2 separate regions of the Homo sapiens genome follow, and region 1 is linked to region 2. Evidence: fine-mapped expression QTL. Tissue or cell type: macrophages. Region 2 holds a variant in brackets; the other region holds the start of a gene. All regions are shown on one strand. Distances are from middle to middle.

What was found. PIP is the estimated chance that this variant, and not a neighbour inherited with it, causes the effect.
Region 1: it holds the start of AGPAT4, and the variant in region 2 is fine-mapped to the expression of AGPAT4 in macrophages (Nedelec 2016, PIP 0.95).

What each region holds. Positions count from the first base shown.
Region 1 is chr6:161,270,774-161,278,960 of GRCh38, reverse strand. It overlaps AGPAT4 (1-acylglycerol-3-phosphate O-acyltransferase 4), which reads left to right and starts at 4,900. Exons shown (of 9, transcript NM_020133.3): 1 at 4,900-5,023.
Region 2 is chr6:161,188,213-161,196,399 of GRCh38, reverse strand. All of the region lies in intron 2 of AGPAT4 (1-acylglycerol-3-phosphate O-acyltransferase 4), which reads left to right. Among named protein-coding and RNA genes, the nearest start is that of AGPAT4-IT1, 30 kb to the right of the region's middle. The variant AAG/G (reference allele first, on the strand shown) is at 4,256.

The sequences.
Region 1 (8,187 bases), 83 kb before region 2:
GACTCCGTCTCAAAAAAAAAAAAAAAAAAAAAAAAAATCACATACCATGCAATGACAGTAAAAATCATCCCAAGTTTCATACCACTTGAACTAATGTGCTCTATTGTCACTTGGCTATGAAGAATACAAGTGCTAGGTTTCAGTATTGGCATCGTATTACCTTGTCTTTTAAAATCAGGTTGTGAAACTGGTATCTTTTTCAATTTGTTGCCAATCAGTTATGCGTTAATTGATTTGAATTCAGTTCCTTCTGTTGTGGTAGATTTGCTTCTGTATCGTATGATTTCAAGTTGCTCATTGCCTGAATTCAGGACAGGGTAGTGGGTGGCTTTCTGGGGCCATCTCAGGCGGGCTGAATTGACCTGAAGATGGCAATAAGAGAAAAAAGCCAAGTAAATATCAAGAACAATTTTTAGCATAAAATTCAGTGTTAAGATTCATTGAGAGCTAATCAATAGAAACGAAGGTTCTGTAAATACATCCATCTTATGGGAATAACTTAGGTCATAACCATTGTTGGCAAAGGAGGAAATTTTTCTTAGTTCCTCTGCACTTTCCCCAATGATATTAATGTTACACCTCTTTGATCGTACTTGAAATGATTGTAATAATAACGAGAGCCGTAAGAGTTTGTTGGTCATAAAAACATACAACATTTTAAGAACTTTATTGGGTTTTTATTGACATATATAACTATTAAATATAAGATTATAGACCCCAAATATCAAATTAACTTTAGCATTTACAATTTTCCTTTGTCTCCTCTAAGCAGCCACAATTTCCAATGTAGCACATAATGAGGTCATCATAGTTGCAAATCTATATCTTCATATTGTATAACTTGAGAACATTTTTAAACTCAGTGTATAGGTTTGTGTGGATGTTGTATCAATGTTCACAACACGAGGCAAGTGGAAATAAAGCAAAAATACTGTTAATGTGTAATAACATTGTGCTAACAGAATGGGCAATTTGTAACAATGCCATCAGTGACTCCACTATCTAGCACAACAGTTAATACATAGTGTGTAAGTTCACATTTCAGATAAGTGATAGTTATCATTTTAAGTACCAAAACTTAGGTTTAAAGAAGTTTCTGAGATATGCAGAATTCTACCTCTCACTGGGCTTTGAAAATATGTTACTCCTCAGGACTCACCGTGTCGTAAGCATCACTGATTATTGTTTATGTCTGTTCTAAATTGCAGAAACAGTTTCAGAAACCTAGGTTATTTGGTTTTTAGTCCTAATCTTGTTACTGTAAAAGTCACACGTGTTCATCCATTGTAGAAAGTTCTCCAAAGTGCAATCACATATAAAGAAGCAAATAAAAATCATCCTCAATCTCACTCTCCAGAAGTAATGATTATTAACAGTTTCATGATCTTCATCACACTGCATTAAGTTTCCCAGAGCTGCCATCACAAATTAGCACAAACTGTGTGACTTAAAACAACAGAAATTTATTCTCTTACAGTTCACGAGGCCAGGAATCTAAAATTAAGGCATCAGCAGGGTTGGGTCCTTCTGGAGGCTCTCAGAGAGTCTGTTCCATGCGTCTCTCCTGGTTTCTGGTGTTTGCCAGCAATCTTTGATTCATAGACACATCATTCCCATCTCTACCTCCGCCATCACATGGCCTTATTCTATGTGTGTGTCTTTCTGCATCCTCTCCTCTTTTTATAAGGACACCAGGTATTGGGTCTATAGCCCATCCTAATCCAGAATGACTTCGTCTCAGCTGATTAACATCTGCAAAGACTCTGTTTCTAAACAAATTCATATTGTGAGGTTCTGGGTGAACATGAATTTGTGGGGGACACTGGGGGACACTTATTCAACCCACTACACACACTGTAATATATATTTATAGAATCACGAAAACGGGACCATAATTTATATAAAGCTTAGTTCCCTTTACACTTAAGATACCATGAATTTCCCTAGGTCTTTCAAACACAGAATTTTAATTTTTTGTAGAGTGTTTCATCATATGAAGATTACATCATTTCCATAGCTAACCTGCTACTTCAAACACTCAGATGGTTTCCAGACTTTACTATTATAAATGGCTCTGATGAATATACATGTTCCCAAATCTTTGAATTTATCTCTGCTTATGTCCTTGGTATAAATTATTCTGAGTCGAATTATTGGATTAAGGGGTATGAACATTTTAAAGGCTCATGAAAAATCTTCTTTAATTGAATTCCAGAGATTGTATCAATTTGCCATCACCAGCAGAAGAGAGAACCCATGGCATTGCATTCTCTGCACTGCACGTTCTAGCTTTTTGAGTGTTGGACAAGTGACTAGGCAAAGAAATAACATCCTTACTTTGTGACTTGTATTTTTATGTAAGGTTGCCTCTTTGTTTACGGACCACTTATATATCTTTTTTAGGTTACCAATTTATGATTTGTGTCTCCTTTTCAATTTTTTTCTCCTCTCTCCAACTGCCAGTATTTATTTCTTACCATCTCACGGATGAGTATACTGTCCACCTCCACCCCTTTTAGAGTCCACTGTTAGCTAAGAAACTATGTAGATGTATCCTCCCTCTCCTTTTCCCATTCTCGAACCACCTCTGAATCTTGTACAAATGTCAATCATTGCCTCCATTGTGTCTTAACTGTTTACATTTCGCTTTCCCTTCTAAGACTTTGAGCACTTTGGGGCCATTTCCATGTCTTATCTGTGTTTTTGTATCTTCAGCAACTAACATGGATGCTCAATAAACATACATTGAACTGAGTTGTTACGTTGTGACCTGGAAATATTCACAATTCCTTGTATAGATAGAAATAGCTAAATAAGGGCACATAAGGATAGACTCTAAATGGCACTCAATAATGTGCATAGGGCTGGGCGTGGTGACTCCCTGCCTGTAATCACAGCACTTTGGGAGGTGGAGGTGGATCACCTGAGGTCAGGAGTTAGAGACCAGCCTGGGCAACATGGTGAAACTTCGTCTCAACCAAAAACACAAAAAATCAGCTGGGTGTGGTAGTGTATGTCTGTAATCCCAGCTATTTGGGAGGCTGCAGCACGAGAATTGCTTGAACACAGGAGGTGGAGGTTGCAGTGAGCTGAGATCGTATCATTGCACTCCAGCCTGGGCAACAGAGCAAGACTCTGTCTCAAAAAAAAAAGCATAGGATTTAATCCATGAATTTTGAATTTCTATGTTAAATTTTTAGAAATAGTAACTTTTTCTCCCATATTTCTCAGCTATATCTGAGATAACTGGGACTGAGCAACATTGTCTAGACAGGCAAAGTGTTAGCAATAATAAGTATAATAATAATTGTAATGTAATAATGGAATGAGGATGTTAAAGTACTGAGATCAGGATAAAAGTTACAATTGTCCAAATTTTAAATTTCCTATCATTTCCACTGAAATCACTGACTGTACTTATAACATTATCAGGAATTTATGCAATTTGTAGGTTTTGAAATAAATTACCATTCAGAATTCAACCGTGAAAAACAGTGTAACTCTACTTGAAAAACACTTTGAAAAACTCAAGTTTCCACCAAATCTAGAAGCACATGGGTCGTAAAACATAGTTCGAAAAGTTACGAGAGATGATGACTACAAGGAACTTTTTATAAAAATCTTTTATAAGCATTACTCTGTGGTCAAATTTATTTTCACATGGATATTAAAACAAGTTATTGCTACAAATGGGTTTCTGTTCTGATCCTTTTTTTGTTTGCCTCACATATCCTTTCTCTTCCACCACATTCTGCTTCACTCTCCCCGTCTCTCATCACAGACAAGAAAAATGCCACCTCCCATAGGACCCACTCCAAACCCTGTTTCCTGAATGATCAATGCCTTCCCCCATCGCAATCAAAAAAGCACTTTCTATTCTGTCTTCATGACACACTGGTTTTGACACTTGCATAGCTGTTAGTAATTCTGCAATGTGCTTGGGCTATTTGTGAGCACATGTATTTTTCCTTTATAGATTATAAACATCTAAAGAACAAGGTTAACCCAGGAGTCAAGTAAATAGTTAAATATTATTTTGACAATGGCTGTAATAGTGGACATTTGAAAGGAATACACCTCAGTATTTTGAAATTGAAATAATTTTCTAGATCCTGGCATTTCTGGACTTTCAACAGCCCACCCTTTTTAAAAATTGTGAAGACACTTTTACTATAAAGGTCTGCCCAGACCCTCTCTGATACACCTGTGTAAATGCCACGTGCATGTGAGCATGCGACAGTACGTGTGTGCACGCCTGTGCAGTGGTAATCAACCATGGTGCTAAGGTTTGAAAACAGAAAATACATCAATCGACCTCCAAGCTTCTTTCATCCCACTTCATAACATCTCAATCTCTTGAGTGCTGAGGCTTATTTTGTTTAAGATGATTTGGACTCTTCTGAGTGCAACGCAATCTCCTTCCAGCACAGCGGACCGAGGAGAGGTGAGGGGAGAGTTTTGAGGGTGGGCATATTGATCCTACGCTTGCTGAATTAAAAATGAGCCAACTGAGGACAATTTCCAGGTTGCAACACAGACGGAGCCGGAGTCTGGGTTGAGGTTAGAGGAGCCGTTAGGGCGCAGGGATGCAACAGGATTTGGGAGAAAGGGGAGAGAAAGCAAGGCCACTTCCAGGGGGCTTTCATTTTTTTTTTATCCTGGCAGCTTCCCGAGCCAGATTTCAAAAGCGATTTCAAACGTGAAGCCAACTGAAGCACTGCCTTACACTAATTGGAAGGGGAAGGGAGTGACTCATATTACACCAGCTCGCTCTTCCCTCTCGGCAACTGCTAACTTGTAGCTTTAAAAGGAAGTGACATGGGTGGGGAGAGACGTCAGCTGAGGACCACTTTTTTTTTTTTTTTCTTCCTGAAGGGTCCACCCCATGGGTGGAGTCTCGCTTTTTCTTTCCAGTGTTGGCTGACTTACAGCTCTTATAAACTAGTGGCAATTTCTGAACCCAGCCGGCTCCATCTCAGCTTCTGGTTTCTAAGTCCATGTGCCAAAGGCTGCCAGGAAGGAGGTATGTGGTCCTGGTGCCGTTCGCAGGCACCTTCCCCGCTGGGTGTGGCTGATGTTTGCATTCCTCTTCCCAGCATATTTTTCTCTCCTGGGCTGGATTTCCTTAGGACCTCTGGAAGGGGTAGGCTCCGGGGGCGGGGGGGGAGTGCAAGGCGGGCGGGGGAAAGGTGCAGGGGGCGCCTGGAGGGAGGCGAAGAGAGGCTCTGCTGGTACAAAAGGACCCTCGCTTTGTGCTGGGCCGGGTGAGCGTCCCTTTCTGGGCTGTGATTTCAAGCTGCTGTTCCTGGCTTCATTTACCCACCCACCCAGCCCCCTCCCGGGGCTAAAGCATTTTCTCTGCTATAGACGAAGCTGGGCGGGGGGTGGTGGTGGGGGGAATGTTCCTATTACATATTGCTCTCTTTTGTGTCATGCAACATGTTCTTCCGTCGCTGACGTTTCTATGGCAACCACAAAAATACTACACAATATGCAGCCCCGATATACATTGATTTATTTGTATTTTGTGTCTAGTTTGCAGCTTTCTGCTCTGCTTCTTGCTTTGGTTTGCTAAAATCCAGCATGGCTTGTGGCTACCCCTCCTCACTTTCATTTTGGTTTTTCCCTATCACAGGAGGGGTGGGGGAGGGGAGTTGTCAAGGAAACAGGCATTGGTAATTACCTCTCTATTTACCTAATTTTCGGCCTATGAATTTCTCCATATCGAGGAATTAAAAAAAGAATGCTTTGATGTTTATGTAAGTCTTCAGTGTCTGGTCTTTTTTTAGAAAACCTAAACACTTCTTAAGATAAGATATTGATCCTGTGGTCAAGCTAAGGGGGAATTAATTCCTTACAGGAGGTGAGATCATTGAAATAAAGTTTTAGAGAGCATTGGAGAATTCGCACTGATAAATGTGATATTGCCTGCCCAGGTTTGCCTAAAAGCTTAAATATTTAAAAGATGGGTCTTTGCTCTCATCTGCACTTATTTAGCTCCAAATCTTAAGTTCAACAAGTATGAGTAACAAATTAACTGCCGGGCAGGATTCTCCGTTTTTCGTTTTCGTGCATTGTTCTTAGATGGATTAGCCACGCTATTCACTCTCTTCAAGGTGAGGGTTGCTAGACTTTTTCAAAACTGTGGAAGGATTAACTCATCTGTGATTAGTCAACGACTCTCAGTTGGAAAAAAAGTATCTTGAGAGAAGGGAGAATGTGTGTGTTTGTGTGTGTGTGTGTGTGTGTGTGTGTTTAGGGAAATGGGAGGCGGGCAGGGAGAACAGGGCACATCTTGAGTTCTACGTTAAAAGGATTCCATCTTCTGAATATTCTCTATGGGGAGAAAAACTGTTATTCAGAAAAAATATGAAATGAGAAAATTATTATCTACTTAGTAATAAGCAAAGTTAATTATAATTAGAATCAAATAACACATCTCTTAGAAAGACATAGCCTCTTAACAGGTACCGGCTAAACTGATGCTTTTATTCAGTACGTCTAAGGAAGCGTTTGATAAGGGATACCATTCTTCTGATGGGCATCCCAAATAATTAGCTTTTATAAAATAGATAAGTAGTAATCCCATTCATGACTCTTAAAATTATCTATAATTTAAGATAAACATGTGTGAAGGTCACTTAGCCCTCATACCTTCCGGCTGCTAAAGCCAAAATCATTACTTATAAACCTTGAGCAACCCTGCCATGTGGAAGCAGGAAGAATGGGTGGTTTCAGTGAGGTTCTGTTTGCTGTGATCCTTATCTAAATATGCTATCATCTATGTCTTATCAAATCTGCTATAAATCCAGAGGTCCTAAGTAATTCAGGTAGAAAAGTTACCTGAAAATGGGGCAAAATAGCATGGCACAAAACAAACCAGAGCCACATGGAGTTAAAGACGAGAACTATTTAAAGGGCATAACACACAGAAAAGTATTACTAAAAAGAATATGACACTCATTTTGAAAAGCACATGTTAGTACACAGAGAAACGGTTGGATTGTGAGCATCTGATGTTTGCAAAGAATTCTGAAAAGCAGCCAGGCTGAAATTACTGTTTTTCCTGTCTGAAAATGGTCCTCAAGGGCAGATTTGCCACATGACCTTCCAAAGCAGATTGACAGCATGTAAATCAAAGTCTGCGATGTCGGTTCTCTTGAGTTTCCAGATTCAAAATTTCACAGCAAAAAGCCTAATGGAATAGAACTGAAAGGAAAAAGAGCAAGACTTCCTCAGAAGCACAGCCAAAACAAAAACAACAAAAAACCCAAACCCAATAAACAAACAAAACACTGTCTGATATTCAGATGCTGAGTAGAGGTTAAAGCAGTTAGCAGCTTTGGCCTAGGGAAGGTAAGTGGAGCTGTGAGTATAAAGTAAACGTAGGGTCCCATGGAAGAGGCTGACAGAGGTGACACCCAGAGGGTGAGTCAGCCGTCATTTTATTGGGATTTTACTGTCTGCAAGGCTCTGCTGTGAAGTTGGTGAAGAAGGCAGCAGTTGTAGTCTGTGCTCTCAAGCTTAAAATCCACCAAACGGGTGGCGAAAAGAAGAGCAGAGCACCCAGCTGGAAGGAAGGGGGAGGCAACAGCCAGTCAAGGAGACGCAATTAGTATGAGAAGAATACTAGAGAGTCTTCATCCTGCTGCTGAAGCTTTATAGGAGAGGAGGCAGACGGTTCAAGGGAAGAAGGAGAGGGTGTCTTAGATAGCAAAGGTGGATGGTAAGAAATGGATCATGGTTCAGGGTTCTTAACTCCAAGAAGGGAGAAGTCAGTCTTTAGTATAGAAGTAGAGCAGGTATACTCTGTGCTGGTTGAAAGCATAAGTAGATGTAAATTGGGGACAGAAGTTTTTCTTAATCAGAAAAAGAAGGACTGTTAGAAGACTGAACAGAAGGCAGAATCCTTCCTAATCCAATACTTTTTTAGCTTCAGCTTAACAACGAAAGGCCAGACTTACACTAGACTTTAAACAGGTATGAAACTGGGGAAGACGCAACCAGGAACTTACCCGGAATGTCATCTTCATAATTCCTGCCATTGCCATTGTTTTAAATTATTGGATGCTCAAATGAGGGTTTGGTAAATGTCACACGTTTTGTGCAGTCTCCTTTATTCTGGAAAGGAGGTCTGATGGTTATGGGACAAAGCCGCATTCACATTTATTTTTTTTTTGAGATGAA
Region 2 (8,187 bases):
AATCATCCCCAACCCAGGCACTAGGTGTTATTTGATGTGACTTATCTGTTGGGTTTGCCCTGACTGCCTCTTTTTTTTCCTTTTCAAACACTTTCATAGTTTCCAGGACACCTTTTCTGCAGATTTCCCTCCAGCCCCTAGCCTCTCCAGTTCCTGGCTTTTTCTTAACATTGCTGTTCTTTGGTAAAGTGTCACCACTCAGTGTCTGATGCCTTAACTTACTAGGTCCCATTTCTTTTCTCCTAGAAAGACAGTGCTCTTAAGATGGCGAACCACACCATTCTAGAAAGAGGTCAGGGTTATATTTCTGTCTTGGGATGGTGGGTCATTAAGCCTCATTAAGTTATGCAAATCCTAAAGTCCTGGCACCTTCAGGGGCTCTAGAATATCCAGCACGTGAATCACAGAGCCTTGTGGGTGTGAGCTGCCTCTGCACACGGTGGGGAGAGCCTGATCAATGTCAGGAAGCTTTGGGAAAAGATAGGATCGGAGCGGACCTTGAGAACATTCACATTCAAGACTTGCCCTAATGCCAACGCTAGACAATCAGCCTGCCTGCTGGCCCTGACACCTGCCCCAGAGAGCAGTGTAGAGCCATGCCTGTGTGACGAGCCCCGAGGGTGTGGCATGCCTCCCTAAATGTCTCCAGGTTCTCTGCATGTGTAGTTTTGGATCTGAGAGACAGAGGGTGGCCTTCTTAGAGTTCTTTCCTCTTCGGAGTAGTCAAAGGTGACTGAGGCATGACACAGCCTGATGCAAGGTCTCTTTCTCCTTCTGCAGCTTTGATCACATGATGAAGTTCTGCAACATTTGCTTTTATACTACAGGCATCATGGGCTTGCTGAGTGAACTGTTACATGAAGTGTGCGCTAGGAAGCGCTTTGAGCTTTTAAAGATCTCTGGCTACTGTACAAACTTCTGATTCTGATGAACATGAAGTTGCTGTATTTCTAGGTGGCTTTAAATCTTGGAATGATGGAAGCATTCCTTGCAGGTCATGCCATATAATGAAAGGTGTTTATAACCCGCCCAATGGTTGTCCTGCAGTGCTTGTCTTCTCTGAATAATTACTTTTTTTCTTTTATTTTGGGAAGACTGCCACTGGAAAGGGAAAGCTGGACTCTTACCCTGAAAATAGGTGCCAGTTTCTTGTCTTGAATTATCCTTCATCTTGGTTTTCGGTTAAATGAGAAATTTGCTTCAAATTCTGAATTATGTTTCTGGTGTGGTTAAATTAAGTTGTATTTTATTCTTTTGGAGAAAAGAATATATTTAATTTTGTACTTAATGTTGAGATCCCCAGAAAGGCCTCAATAAATAGTATTCTTCACAGTTATATTTCTAAACAATTTGAGAAATTAAGCAAGGACTTGGAAGGTGGTGGCCAAAGCTTCTCCCGGGGCAAGTAAGGTGCAGGAAGGCAGGAATTTATCTAAGGAAGGATCCTTTCTAAGGGAAACTAGAAGTAAGGAAGTTGTTCCTCTTTAAAAGCTAAGTGTATCAGATCATCCATGGAAACCATTTTATTCATTAATTTCTGAAGTGTTTAAGGAGCTCCTGCAATGTGACAGGCACCAAGTCTGATAACTTAAAGATGAACAAAATAAGTTTCCTCTGTCAAGAAACAGCCTTGTCGAGGACACATGCAAGGACATGCAAATACACACACACATATGCACATACACATACATACGCACACACAATACATACATACATACCTACGCATCTATACACACATACACATACATACATACACATACACACATACACATACACACATGTACACATACATAGACACACATACATACATACACATATATACACACATACACATACACACATGCACACATACACATACACACATAGACACACAGACACACACATATACTTACATGCACACACACACATACACACATACATGCGCATATTCTAACACACACACACACACACACACAAACACACACACACACTACTCTGGAAAGGAATGGGGACCAGGTTTGGCTGACAGAGGAGACAGGAGCAGCTCATAAAGCATCATTATAACATTGCCAAGAAGCTTTATCTTTTAGATTAGTGTCGTGCGTCCAAATTACAATGAGAACTGCACATGTAATTTTAAATTTTCTGGTAGCCAAATTAAGAGATAGGTGAAATTAATTTTAATATATCTGATTAACATAATGTATTCAAAATATTACCAGTTCAAAATGTATCCATTGTAAAAATTAATGAGATATTTGGCATTTTCTTTTTTTGTTGGAAATCTTCAAAACCCAGTGTGTATTTTATGCCTACAGCTTATCTCAGTTTGGACTAGTCACATTTCACATGTTCAGCAGCCTCATGTGGCTGGTGGCTAATGGAGTGGACAGCATAGCTGTAGACAGTGATTGCGTGTAACCTTCTTTTACATACAGGAAAATTATGGCTTAGAAAAGTAAAGTACCTTCAGCAGAACTGACTTCCATTTTCAATGATATGGCAGCTTAGGTTATTTTGCCCAACTCTTCTTCTAAAAATATTGGATAAAATATATTTTTAAATCTTAAAAGTATCGAAGAGCTGTCAAGATAGTAAGGACATACCAGGCAAAATCTAAGGGAAGATAGTGCAGATAGTCAGGGCACCACAGCGTTGCTGAGGATATATACGAAGCCAAGAAAATCTGATTGTCAGCATTCCAGTAGTGTCAACACAGACGTCAAAGCCCAGAGTCTGCCTTGGAGTCTAACAGGGATTCTTCCTCCATAAAACTGGAACTGTGAAAGGCTGTAACCTCAATGTAAAGATGAACCAAAAGGAAGGTTGATCACCCCACAGGTCTAGTGGCCAACTCGGAAGTTTGTATTGGTCTGAGTTGAGCTGAGGATAATAAAAGTCTCTGAAAAGTGGTGACCACAGAGCGGCCTGCTTGCAAATTTGCAGCGTGTATTCAGATCCCCCGGATGCTCTGGAAATCTCCAACCATGATGTTAGCTTCAGATAGTCTTGGACTGAGCATGTGGCACATGTCAGAAACAATAAACTGTAAAAATTAACCTAGGAGGTTTTAAAATGAATCAAAAGAACCTGTAGAAATAAGAAACTACTGGATTGAAAAGCTCACCGTATGGGTTTCATGTCAGCTTAAACACAGCTGGAAAGACTGTTAGTGAACTGGAAGACACATCAGAAGGAAATATCCAGAATGCAGCAGAGATACAGACATGAAAAAATACTTTTTAACAAACATGGGAAAGAGATTAAGTATGTCCTTCCAGAAGATGGGGATGGAGGGAAGAAAGAGACAGTATTTGAAGAGACAATGGCTCAGAATTTTCTAGAACTGACAAATAATACTAATCCAAAGATTCAAGAAGCCCAGTGAAACCCACGGAAAATAAAAGAAAAATCCAGTCACACGTAGATGCATCATAGTGAAATTGTGGAACACCAAAATATACAAGACATTAAATGTCACCAGAAGAGAAAAGACACCTTCCAAAGAGTGACAGACCACCTTCCAAAGAGCGACACCCTAAAGTCTAACTTCTTCCCAGCTGCAGCAGAAGCCAGAAGATGATGCAATCGTATCTTTAATGTGTGCTGAAAGAAAAAGAAGTTCTAGTCTAGAACTCTACACTTAGCAAAAATAACTTCCAAGAATAATGGCAAAATAAACACATTTTCAGATAAACAATAATTGTGTTTTTCACCATCATATCCTCACTAAAGAAAATGCTAAAGATAAATTTTCAGGAAAAGGAAAAAGATCTCAGATGACCTGAGATACAAGAATGAAAGAAGAGAAAAAAAGGTGATACGTGGATAGATGTAAATGAACACTGTATAAACAATGATAAAGTCTTGTGGAGTTAAATTAGAAGGACAATATTAGAATATTAGGCCAGAATAACATAAAAGGCACTAGGAAGGATAAATTGAGATATTTAAAAAATATATGACTTCCAGCCAGGTGCAGTGGCTCACCCCTGTAATCCCAGCACTTTGGGAGCCTGAAGTGGGCAGATCACCTGAGGTCAGGAGTTTGAGACCAGACTGGCCAACATGGGGGAACCCCGTTTCTACTAAAAATACAAAAATTAGCTGCGTGTGGTGGCAGGCACCTGTAATCCCAGCTATTCAGGAGGCTGAGGCAGGAGAATCGCTTAAACCTGGGAGGCAGAGGTTGCAGTGAGCTGAGATTGTGCCACTGCACTCCAGCCTGGGCAACAGAGCAAGTCTCTGTCTCCAAAAAAAAAAAAAAAAAAAAAAA[AAG/G]TATAACTTCTAAACTAGTAGAGGGAAAAAATGTTTATTGCAAAAGAAGGCGAGAAGGAAGAGAGAAGAAAGGCACCATGGAAACATGAGACAAAAAAAAAAAAAAAGGAATGCACAAAATAGGACAATCCTTGTAAATCCAAGAACAGTTACACCTCCCTACACACTGCCCAGCTCTGGTCCTAACCAGGGGAGAGGAAGGTGAATTGAGAATTGAAAGCACCATTGAAAGAAACACAGTTAAATCACTTGTTCAAGACTGTAGTCAGGAAATCAAACCAGCCTTGGCTTGTTGAGGCAACAATGGCCTCCTTGCAGTTTAGTTTTGTCCATGCTATGTGTAACTCTCTTCTGCACCTACATCCTTATGGAATGGATTGGTGTAGAGACAGTCTCCCAACTCATGTAATCTGTATCTGACACAATCTTTGTTTCTGATATTTTAAATGTCAGTCCACAAAAGTCAAACAGCTGCAATTTAACCTTGTACTTTTAATCTAATTAATCAACATCTTCAGGACTATGACAGGTAGAAAGAATATGTATACATCTTTAGTCCTGTCTGGCTCTAGTTTCACCCACTTTCAGAGCTGCTGGAAGTGGACAGTGTCCCTCCTTGTATCTAAGATACTTGGTTCCCCTTGATATTCTAATTTTAGGGCCATGGTGGGGCAGGTGGGATTGGCCCCCTTGGTCTGAGCCAGCTTTCAGAATGACGTCTCTCCAACTGAATTTATATGGCAATGGTATTATTTTCCTGGTTTCATTCAGTTCCTAAGTACCACATTTTAACTCTTCCATACTTCTTATTCCTAATTTGCAGCACAGCACAGTGGGTTAGAGTGTGGGATGTGAAGTGACACAGGCCTGGTCTGAGTCTGGGTGTGATATCTGCTGGCTTTGTGATCCTGGGTATTTATGTTAACTCCTCTACATTTTGGTGTTCTCGTCTGTCAAGTGTATGCTAACTGCGTTGTTACATAGATAATGTTTGTAAACCATTTGTCACTAGGTGTGGCCCACAGTAAGCACTTAATGAATGTTATTATATTTGGAATCAAATGATTAACCTTCTCCATATTGTGTTCTTAAGGAGTTAAAAAACCAAAGCAGGGGTGCTGAGGAGATTTGAACCAAGATTAGCATGGGTCTAACCAGTCTGTCTTCATGGGAAATCCAGACTGGAAAAAACTTTTTTCCTCTGGACATCTGGATATATTTATTGGGAACAAAGAACAAAGTCTGACTATTGTTATAACCTTAGATTACAGTCTATTGGATAAATACATCTAATTACTACCCAAGAACCACAAAATTGACTTTTTAATGATTAGTTTATTTCTGCTTGTCTTTATTCTAGAGATGGGTATTTTAGATCATATATAAATTGTTCCTTTTTCCTTCAGACCTATATTGGCATATTGCTTGTCTTTCTTTCCCATTGGCATGATTAGAGAGTGAGATTTGGAATATTCAGAAGTTAAGGTGGAATGAGAATCTTTCTACTCCTTTGATCAATATCTTAAGGTCTAAGGATCTTTTTTTTTTTTTTTTTCCCTTGGTTTCTTCTGGGTAAAGCTTCCCATGAGCTCTCTGCTGATTGGCCACAGATAGCTAAAACCAGTTGGGAGGCAGAGGGAGAATCAGAACTATAAAATAGTATTTTATGTATTTTCTTTAACCTTTTTTAATGGGAGAAATATAAAAGGATCAAATCACTCTGCCTTTTAAAAAATTAATGGGCTATTTTTTAAGAGCACTTTTAAGTTTACAGAAAATTTGTGAAGGAAGTACAGATAGTTTCCATATACTCTCTTACATTCAGTCTCTCTCTCTCTCACTTGCTCACTCGCTTTTCCATTAGTCTGGTACATTTGTTACAATTGATGAACCAATGTTGATAATGATACATTATTTTGACTAATGCATAATGTCATGTGCCCATGAAGACAATGTCCTGCAGCAGAGCGTCACTGCCATAAAAATCCCGTGTTCCTTATTCATCCCTCCCTTCCCCTGACCCTGGCACTTCCCACATACATGGCTGCACTTCAGATACAGCTCATCTAAATGACATCAGCTTCCTAAGGTCACCCTGTTTCGTTTTAATTCCTGTATTTCATAGACTCTAGTCATTGACCGTAAGGTGCATATTTATTATGCATCTCTAAGAAAGGAAAAGAAATGCTCCAATTAAACTAAGGGATGCCATCAATAGTGAGACACACCCTGATTTCAGCATGTTAAAATGTGAACCAACGGAGCATTTCAGAACTGATAAGACAGAACAGAGCCTGGGCCTGCACAAAACTCAGTGCTATCTTGAAAATGAAAACAAATACTCAGAGAACCACATTTCAGGTTGGCATTCAGCCCTTTTTTGGGTGGAGGAGAGAGGGGTTAGGAGGGCGGTGGGTGAGGAAGGGGCAGGTGGAGACAGTGAGGTGGAAGAGGGGGCCAGAGACTGATGGAGGAGCCCACGGATGTGCAGCTGGCCTGGATCTGCCGTGTGCAAGTGTACAGCACAGACAGAAGTCCGTACCGTCTCAGTGGCCTGGGGCAAGTTGCTAAGACTTTCAGAGCCTCAGCTTCTTCATCTGTGCAGAGGAGGGATAGTCCTGACGGGCAACTAAGGTTGTAAGTAAGTGAATTCCGCATGTGACGAGCCTCACTCACTGTGTGGCTACAGTGTGTGTACAATACATGTGGGTTCTCTCTTCACCCCGATTCCTCAATGCCTTCCTCCTCTTCCCTGCTCCTCCATCCTGTTCGTGCCCCTTCCCTGGACCCCACCCATCACCTGAGCTGTGACCTCAGGGCACCCTGCTGGTCTTGGCACACTCATTAGACTTCACCACAAGAGCCAGATGGGGAGGAGGCAGGACAGTCCGCAGATGGGAAAGCCTCCTAATTCCTGGCCTTGGTCTTCCCAGGGCTGCCAGACAATCCGGGTTTAGCAACACTGTTGCATGCCCACTCACCAGCCTCATAGCTTGATTAGATAAAGCTCACCTGGTAGATGAAACCCTGGCAAAATGATTTATCAGGGATGTTTTAAAGATGGGGATATAAAATAGGCACAGATTTATTACTTCAAAATTACTAAGATTCTAAGAAACACGTGTTCTGCACGTGCACGAGGCCAGCAAAGCAAGAGGACTGAGCCCTCAGCATCAGGGTCAGCAGCAGCTGGTACAGGAATTCTGCCCCCAGAATGGGCATGACCTTGGGAAAGCCATCTCTCTTCCATTTGCCATTGGTGAAATGAGATAGCGATGCCGATCTCACCAGGTGGCTCTCGGGATTCTAGGGAATGATGTTTACGGAAGCCCCATTCGACGGCCGCTGGCTGCTCAACCCAGAGGTGCCCTGTTCAGTTCCTCCCCAAGCTGCCCTCCCAGAGGCACGGCCGTGCTTGTTACCATGGTGACTGCTGGGTTAACAAGGACTGGAATCGCCAGATTTAACAAATAAAAATTCAGCACACCCAGCTAAATTTAAATTTCATATACACATGATTTTTTAGTATGTGTCCCAGATATTGCATGCCTCATAATGTCGTTTAGTATTGCGTGGGACATACTTATGCTAAAAAATAAAGTGTAATTTATCTGAAATTCAAATGTAATGGGGTACCTTGTATTTTACCTGGTCATCTTAATAGGGACAGAATATTACGTTGTTGGAAACACTGGGAAGTTTCACTTGAAACAAGTGATGTAAGGAGAGGATCTCAGAATTATCTGGTGACCTAATTTATCACAAGTCTGATAGAAAAATGTGCAATTTATACATAATCCTTAATAATTAAAAGCTGCTCTACTGAAAAAGTTGGTTTTCTACTAGAAGAGAGACAAAATTAAATATCCTAAGGCGTCCTAGGCTGAGATATGGAAGCAATCAATGTCCCATGTAAAGACAATGTTTTTT